2 separate regions of the Homo sapiens genome follow, and region 1 is linked to region 2. Evidence: fine-mapped expression QTL. A gene starts in region 2. The other region holds a variant in brackets. All regions are shown on one strand. Distances are between the middles of the regions. Region 1 overlaps NAV2 (neuron navigator 2). Region 2 holds the start of HTATIP2 (HIV-1 Tat interactive protein 2).

The links. PIP is the estimated chance that this variant, and not a neighbour inherited with it, causes the effect.
Region 1: its variant is the best candidate, but not a certain one, in a credible set for the expression of HTATIP2 in uterus (GTEx, PIP 0.74).

What each region holds. Positions count from the first base shown.
Region 1 is chr11:19,845,028-19,849,417 of GRCh38, reverse strand. The region is part of intron 3 of NAV2 (neuron navigator 2); the gene reads right to left. Among named protein-coding and RNA genes, the nearest start is that of MIR4694, 87 kb to the right of the region's middle. The variant A/G (reference allele first, on the strand shown) is at 2,205.
Region 2 is chr11:20,361,923-20,366,312 of GRCh38, reverse strand. HTATIP2 (HIV-1 Tat interactive protein 2) reads right to left here and starts at 2,599. Exons shown (of 5, transcript NM_001098522.2): 1 at 1,881-2,599. The coding sequence starts at 2,075. RefSeq lists silencers at 2,250-2,392, 2,179-2,598.

The DNA.
Region 1 (4,390 bases), 520 kb after region 2:
ATCAGCAGGTCAACTCAGGCCCTTTCCAGAAATGTTCCATCTCCTCCCTTTTTGCTAACTCTCAGCTAAACCTAACTGGTTCTGCTGTAGCTGCAGATGAAAACTAAGGAGAACACGGCTTGGTGAGGTGGAGACTATTTTTATGATACCCCTTCTCTGTCACAGAGGTAAACACCATATCTCTGAAAATAGACTTGGGTTCGAGCTCCAACTCTGCCTCTCCCTAGGTAAAGAATCTGGGACCACGAGCACCCTTTTAAATCCTCAGTCCCCATGTACAAAATATAGACAATAACTGCATCTTTATCATAGGGCTGTTTTGAGTGATTGAGTAGGCTCTCAGCACATAGTCTGGTGCATAGTGAGTGATCAATAAATGTTAGCTCATTAAAATCTCATGGTAACCCTGCGAGGTGTTGTTCTCTTCCACATTTCTCACAGAAGGAAGTGAAGTGCTAAGGCCAAGTGGATTATCCAGGGCCACTTATGATGGGACTGAGCGAGACTGACCACAGTGTTCTGTGACATGAGATCTCTCAGGGGTTTCCTTTGAGTCCAGTGCTATCATTCAGAGAGATGTAGGCATACAAATGAATTCAAACCCCACTAAACAAGCCCCCACCCAAAAGCAGAGTTGGCTGTTCCCGAGGCATGTCTGTTTTTTAACAAATACTTAAGTCCCTTGAAAAATCATCAAAAGAGCTAACATCTACTGAGGCCAGCAACTCTGTGGCCAGCAACGTGCCAGCACTTCATGTAGATTGTCTCATGGAAGCCTTAAAACAACCCCATGAGGCAAATACTGTTACTACCTCTGTTATAGGAACTGGCTCCCTTAGAGACTAAGGGACACACCTGGGTTACAAGCAGTTGGCCTTCCCAGCCCTTGCTCTCAGCTGTGATGCCTTGCAGAGGTCAGAGGTAAGACCTAATCCGACTTCACAGAAAAGAGACTGAGGAGGACCAGAGAAAGGAGGGCTGGAGCCAAGAGCAGAGCTGAAACCTGACACTGCCATGTTCCTTCCTAGGCTACATCCCGCTGCATCTCCCCAGGTGCTGGCCTCCTGCAAGGGGCAGCTATGGTGGCCCTGTCCTGGGCTACCTACCCCTACTTATAGCAGCTTTTATCACTCATATATGGGGTTCCACAGCTTTTATTTGGGAAAATGAGGGGTTCTGCTTATGGAATAGAAGTTAGAAAATCACTGCCTGGCCCTTCTCTGTGCCTAAGTGCAGATTCCTACTGTCTTAGGAACTCCAGTGCTGGCATTTTCCATAGAGCTCCCTGAAAGGACAGGGTGAGAAGAAGGGCTGTGCTCTATGCAGCAGGGGCACCAAACCTGGAGTCTATGGAGCCCCAGGGCATACATGAGCTGGCCTCTGGGGTTCATGATCTGCTCAGGTTGTATGCAAAATTCTGGGATAAGTGCAATTTGGGGAGGAGAGAGCTAGAAGATTTCTGAAGGGTTCTCAGATTTCCAAAAGGTTCTATGTCCCCCAAAACATGAATGATCACTGAAAGAAATCTTCATTATCGTAGTAACTGCCATATACTGAGTGCTGATTATATGCCAGGAGAATAGGGATAATAAGATCACCCGCATCAAAGGGCTGTTGGGAGGATGAACTAAGGGGACATGCTGTATTTGTAAAGCACTTAGAATGGTGCTTGGCACAAGACAAACACTGTAAGCTTTGGTTATATTTTATCACTTTAATTAATATTATCCATTATTATCATTTTCATTGCCTCATTAGTCTTCATGAAATCTTTATGAGGTATGTATTATTATCAACCCCACTTCATAGAACAGGAAATATGAGGCTTCAAAGAGTCAAGTAATTAGCTCAAGGCTGCAGAATAGCAGAAAAGGAATTAGAAACCTGGCCTGGCTGGTCCCCAAGCTCAGGCTGGCCCTCCGTCTAGATGCACTGAGGGAAGAAGGCAGGAGGACTCCTTGAAGAGCCCAGGAGGAAGCAGGGGCTCAGCGCTGGGAGGCTCAGCTGACCCCAGGTCCAAGATCAGCTAAAGGGGAAAGCAGGCCTGGGGCTTTTTTGCTGAAAAGGCAAGCAAGCCTCCCTAACTTTGCACTTCTCCTAATCAACAACAGACAGCCAAGCTGCTTAAAATAATAATGATGAAAAAAGAAAACCACCCCCTGCCACTGGCTATTCCCAGGCTCCAAAGTGAGCCAATGCCCCCA[A/G]TGTCCTGAGTACAGTGAGTTCAAATTGGGAAGCAGGGCCGCCCCAGCACCCACTGGCTAACCTCCAAGCAATGTTTTTCCTTCCACACTAACAGATAACTCTGCTGAACACACCACTTGAAAGCCAAAGAGATGCCCCTTGGTTGCCATGGCAATGTTAAATAGACAAAACATTTTAACCAGCTCTGACGCACACACGCAAACTTATTTAAGGGCCAAGGGGATGAATTTGGTGGGGGAGAGGGAATGGGGTGGGAGTGTTGTTTCTAAAGCTCCATCTCCAAGGATTTGGCCCCAAAAGCATCTGGGTCAGACTGAAACAGGGCAAAGCGCTCCTTAAAAACAAGCCAAGGCTGGGCTTGCTCCAGGAAAGGGAAGCCACTGCTGTGCCTCTCTGCCTTTGGGTTACAGACCTGGTGCCATTTTACCAGGGCCAAGAGGAGGGCGGCACTGAGGGTTACAAATGCTGATGGAAAAGCATCAGGCTTGAGTCCTGGGGAGAGCATCTCCGTTTCTCACCCAAAAGGTGTGAGTGTTATGCCAGCCCACAGCAGAGTCAGGAGGACTGAATGTGTGATGGGCTCATAAGCCTTAAAGCACTGTGTAGATGCGTATTAGTGCTAATATAAAAATATTAACAGCCGTTTCCAACCGGGTTGTGTTTCCATTTCCCAAATTTCATGGCTGAACTTCTGTCCACAGGAATTGATGACCTCGAATTTTTTCCTTTAGAAAACTTTGTTCTGAGGTTTCTCCCCCATATGCAGGAATCTGTGTGATGAAGCATGCACAAGGCTTGTCCCAGGTCTGAAAAGACCTCTGTGCCTATGAGTCTGTTGTACTGTGGGCTCTTCCATGCCCCTCCTTTCACCCCAGGTACAACAGGACAAGGAGTTGATGCTGCCCAGAGGCTAGAAGAGCCTCACCAGACACAGTTCATGGCAATTTGGTACAATCAATGGATGATTGTTTGTAAAACCTTCCTCTGTGGGATCCATGATTTCCTCAAGTAAACCCATTCTCCAGAAATGGGTTCCATGCCTGGCTGTCTCCACTTGGAATCCTCTTCCACCCATCATCTCTTGTGGTGAACTCTCTGACCTTTCAAGACTCACCCTTTAGAAGTTATTTAGGAACCTTCCTTGCCCTGGGGGTAGAATGGGTCTCCACAGTGCCATGCACAGGTGTCTGTGGGAGCAGCTGCAATAGTCTATTCTTCTAATTGTTCTCTGGTCTCTTGCCCACTTATCTGAGTTCTTTGAGGGCAGGGATCACATCTTGGTCACCTGTGTATTCAGCTTGGCCTAGTCCAGCATCTCACATTAGTAGGCACTCTGTGACTGCTTGCTGATTGACAGTCTAAAAGTACACAATGCCAAGCCCATTATGATTATGCACTGCTGCCCCTGGAATCCTCTAGGTCATATTCCACAAATGTCTGCTTTTACTTCCCTATCCTCTGGGAAGACAGCAGGAGTTACAGCAGAGAACAGAGCAGCTGGGCAGCCTAGTGGGTTAGGAAGAGTGAAGGGAGGGAGGAAAAGGTGCCTTCTTCCAGGGCTTGCTCCTCCTACAAAGCTCATGCTCCTAACCTACTCTTGAGCTGAGGATACAAACTGACCCACTGAAAACTGGAATAGCACCCACTCCATTCCTGCTCTGAAATAAAACTCCTTTTGTCTCTATTATTAAAGGGCCCTAAAGGTGCTCTATCTGTTTTCTTAGGGAGTGACCGCATTAACTCTATGCTGATTATTTTTTTTTCCTAGCAGAGCCCATTACCCTCCTAACAGGATACACTTCCCAAGTTCTCATCTCATTGTGTGTCATCTTCCTTCTGCCATGCTTTCTACATATCTTCTCCTTTGGTATCCTCCAAACAGGCAATATTTAGCGAACAACAAATGTTTATTATTGGCCACCCAGATAAAGTCTAATTGGGAGGTTAACCACCTAGCAATCTAGAAATGGTGGCTCACACCCTATGCCATCTTCTCAAATTATACTTCCCATGAGCAAAAGTGCTTTAACTCTATATATGCTTGTGTGCACACAGGTGTCCTATTAGCCAGAAAATCATCCATGCCTGTCTATCGAAAGAACTTCCTGTGTGATCTAGTGAGTTCTGCCTTATGAACTTGTCATTGTTTTGTGATGTAGGGGCAAGAACAATGATCCTATTGTCC
Region 2 (4,390 bases):
TAACATGGTGAAACCCCGTCTCTACTAAAAATGCAAAAAAAAAATTAGCCGGTTGTGGTGGTAGGCACCTGTAGTTGCAGCTACTCGGGAGGCTGAGGCAGGAGAATGGCGTGAACCCAGGAAGCGGAGCTTGCAGTGAGCTGAGATCGCACCACTGCACTCCAGACTGGGCGACAGAGTGAGACTCCATCTCAAAAAAAAAAAAAAAAAAAAGAAAAGAAAAGAAAAGAAAAAGAAAAATAGGGTTTCACAAAGTACCTAGTCAAACAGATGTGCCACCAAAACTCGACACTCAAAACACAGATTTCAATTTGTTTCTTTTCTTTTTTTTTTTTTTTTTTTGAGACAGAGTCTCGCTCTGTCACCCAGGCTGGAGTGCAGTGGCACAATTTCTGCTCACTGCAACCTCCATCTCCTGGGTTCAAGTGATTCTCGCACCTCCGCCTCCTGAGTAGCTGAGATTACAGGCGTGCACCACCACGCCCAGCTAATTTCTGTATTTTTAGTAGAGACAGGGTTTCACCATGTTGGCCAGGCTGGTCTGGAACTCTTGACCTCAAGAGATCCCCTGCCTCGGACTCCCAAAGCTCTGGGATTACAGGCATGAGCCACCACGCCCAGCCTTCAGTTTCAGCTTCTAATTACCATGAATATCTGACACAGCCCATGAAACCGGTGAGAACACATCTGCCTCAGCCTGAGGAAAGATGTCTGTTTTAAATAAACAAGACTTGATGGACCAAAGGCATTCACACCATGACCTGAACACAGACCTGCGAGAATCAAGAACATTTATTTGCAAGATGGCTTGTTATTTGAAATGTTCTTTCTATGAAACCTGTGGGGCCAAATTCTGTAGCTGTGGTGTCTTGAGATCACACTATGTTAATTTGTTGCAGTTCACAGATAATTCCCTTTAAATAAAGAACAGAATCTCCAAGAAACTCAGGCTTCTGATATTTAGGGGGTCATGACAAGACAGAAGTCTGGTATATCATTCCTATAATCATAAAAGTGTAACTTAGGCTGGGCGCGGTGGCTCACGCCTGTAATCGCAGCACTTTGGGAGGCTGAAGCGGGAGCATCATCTGAGGTCAAGAGTTCGAGACCAGCCTGGCCAACATGGTGAAACCTTGTCTCGTCTCTACTAAAAATACAAAAGTTAGCCAGGAGTGGTGACGCACGCCTGTAGTTCCAGTTACTCGGGAGGCTGAGGCAGAAGAATCGCTTGAACCTGAAAGGCAGAGGTTGCACTGAGCCGAGATCGTGCCACTGCACTCCAGCCTGGGGGACAGAGTGAGACTCCGTCTCAGAAAAAAAAAAAAAAAAACCTTTAACTTAGAGTGAAGGGAATATCCGATTTACAGACACAAGCCTGGGAAGTCAGGCAGGGCAAATTCTTGTAAGTGAATAATCCCACCTTTCACTGCCATAGACCTATCTCACTCTGCAAAGCAGTTTCAGAATCCCTGACAATATTAGTGTGAAGTGCGCAGGTTGACAAAATCAGCAAAGTGGCTGAGAAAATTCTCAAGGTCACCAGGGCTGCCTCTAGAATACAGCTTGTATGACCCTGAAAACAGTGCTCTTCTGTCTCACCAGCCCCCACCCCCATTACAACCCAGACCCAGCTTTATAGGGTTGCAGATGGAGAGAAGGGCTTTGCCCAAGACCACACAATGAGCGGGAGGGAGGCACACCTGGGCTACAATCCAGGAGTCAGACTTCTGGGAGGGACTCTCACAGACCAATCTTGGCCAAGTTTTGATGGCCTCTCACTACCCCCACCACTGGCAGGGCAGTATTCAGCCTTTAGGCATGAAATATGTTCACCTCGCAGAATCCTGGGGGTCCATTTGAGTCCCAGCTGAAATACCCACCACATTTTTATAAGCTTCCTCGTCGAAGGTGAGCTTCCTCCGGCCAATGAGCGTGACTTTGGAAAACAGGCCCTGCTCCAGGATTTCCTTTAAGAGCACTCTGCCGGTTTCTCCGCTGGCGCCCAAAATAAAGACGGATTTATTCTGCATCCTGAAGTCTTCCCGAAGCTTCGACAGGGCTTCTGTTTCGGCCATGCTGGGGAAATAACATCGACAGATGCCGGTCTTAGGGTGTCAGGGGACTGCCAGTCCTTATCCCGAGGAACAAGGGCTGTTTATCTGTTAGGGAGGAGGATATTGTTCTCCGCAGTCCGGGCTCTGGGGAAAGTGCTGAGTCACGTGCGGGGCGCGGCTCCCCGGCCATCGCCCGCACCTGAGCCAGCAGACCCATCGGAAGGGGCCCGAGCTGGAGGGTGCGCCCAGGTGCCACAAGCTGCTGGCATCACTGGGCATACCCCACGGTATCCCCGGCCCGGCCAGGAGACCTGGCCCAGCTCGGTCCCATACGCGGAGGGGTTACCTGGGGCCAGCCCCCGGCCCCGGGTCCTCACGACGCAGCAGGAGCAGGGCGGCCGCCAGAGCAGCCGCCGCCGCCGCGCTCAGCGCCGCAGGCCCGGCCATCAGAGCATCCCACCTTCCCTGGTCGGACCGGGGGGGTTGGAGGCGACGGAGACAGCGCCTACCCGGCTTGGTCTTCCGGGTGGCCTCGCGGCGACGCTGCCTCGCCCCGCCCACAGGGGCGGGACCTGGAGACGAACTCCTGGCACCCTCACAGGCGCGGGGAAGGTGACCCCGAGAGCACGTGCGCGGAGCCGCGACCCTTCCTAAGTTTGGAATCTGCAAGACCCTCTTCCCGCGTTTTCCCTCACCTGCTGGGCTCAGCTCACCCAGGCGCCAGCTAGTAGACTTGCCAGACTTGATCTTCAATGGTCCCCCCAGCTGGAATGTCAATTGTATATTGGCCATCATCTCAAATTCACCAAGTCAAAAACTTAACCCTGCCTACCCAACCACCCCAAACAGGAATAAAACAAACCTATTCCTAGCCTCTCTTGGGTGTCACTGTCCCTACATAAACATACACACACACACGCACACACACACACACCTCCTTCTACCCTGTCAAGTCAGAAATCAGGATTCCTTTGATTCCTTTCTTTTCTAGCCTTTCCACACTACAGACTTATCAAGTCCTGTTATCCCATCTGCCTTACAAATATTTCTCCCATGTAATTCAAGCTCGCATCATATCTCCCCAGAATAAATGGTCTACCTGCCCAGGTCCTGGCCTAATTCATCACCTAGATGGTTGAACCCGGGTGACCTTCCACACCTGTGATTCAGTCTTCCTAGCCCAGATCAGTGGTTTGGGACACAGGTATCTACACTGGGCCTGTCCTGGATCTTGGAAGTCCTGAACAGAGGTTAGAATGACAAGCAGAAATCTGAATAATTTCAGATTGTTCAGGTTTTGTTGGGAACATTGGTCATTTGGGGGCCCCACCTCCCATCTAGAAGCCAATGAAACACATTGCCTCTTCCATCTCCATGGGAGTTATTATATGTAGGCTTTGCCTAGGCTCAGCAAGCCAGAGGCTCACGCATAGGTTTTCAGTTTTGGAGGAGTAATGAAAAGATGCAGTGAAGGCCTGAGATATATGTGGGTTGGTTGGGGCAAGGGTATAGGATTATGGCATCATATGATCCACCAGCCATCTGATGGTCTGATCTTGTCTTAAATTCCTGCCTGTTTTCAGAGACTGTTGTGAATACAGTACTTCCTGTTATTCTTCTGATAAATTCCTGTGCTGTATAAGCTTACCAGATATATTCTGTTGTTTGCAATAAAAAAGCTTGATTAATATAGAGCAGTGTGGTTCATTCCCCACTGGCCTGTCACAGTGCCTGGACTCTTCCCTTTGAGTTCCTAAAGGTTTTCTACAAGAATGCAATGTTAAACCTTGTCAGCAAACACTGTCCTAGTAATTCATTTATCAAATCTGTCACAGAAATTATTCATTGTACCCTGTCTATTCTTCCCCTTTGTTTAAAATTGTGGCATAATTAATATACAATAAAATGTACAGAACCTAAAGGTTCTGTTCCATGATTTTAGGAGATTGTATATACACCTAAATAACCACCACCAAAAACAAGATATAGAGCATGTCTGCCATCCCTGAAAGTGCCTTCATTCCCTTCTTGCAATCTCTCCCCACTCCAGAGGTAATCACTTTCTGGTCACTATCAACATAGATTAGTTTTGCCTGTTGTAGAATTCTATTTAAGAGTACAGCATGTACTCTTTTGTGTCCCAGGTTTTTGGCTTAACACATATTTTAGTATTTATTCTTGTTTGTAGGCCTGCATTATGATTTCTATGGGCCCTAAGCACTTCATGAGCCCCTTCATTTTATGTACACACACTATATAATCAAAAATTATGTCTTATGACTATGTTGCTATAAAGATGAATATGACAAACTATTTATATAATCAAAAATTATGTC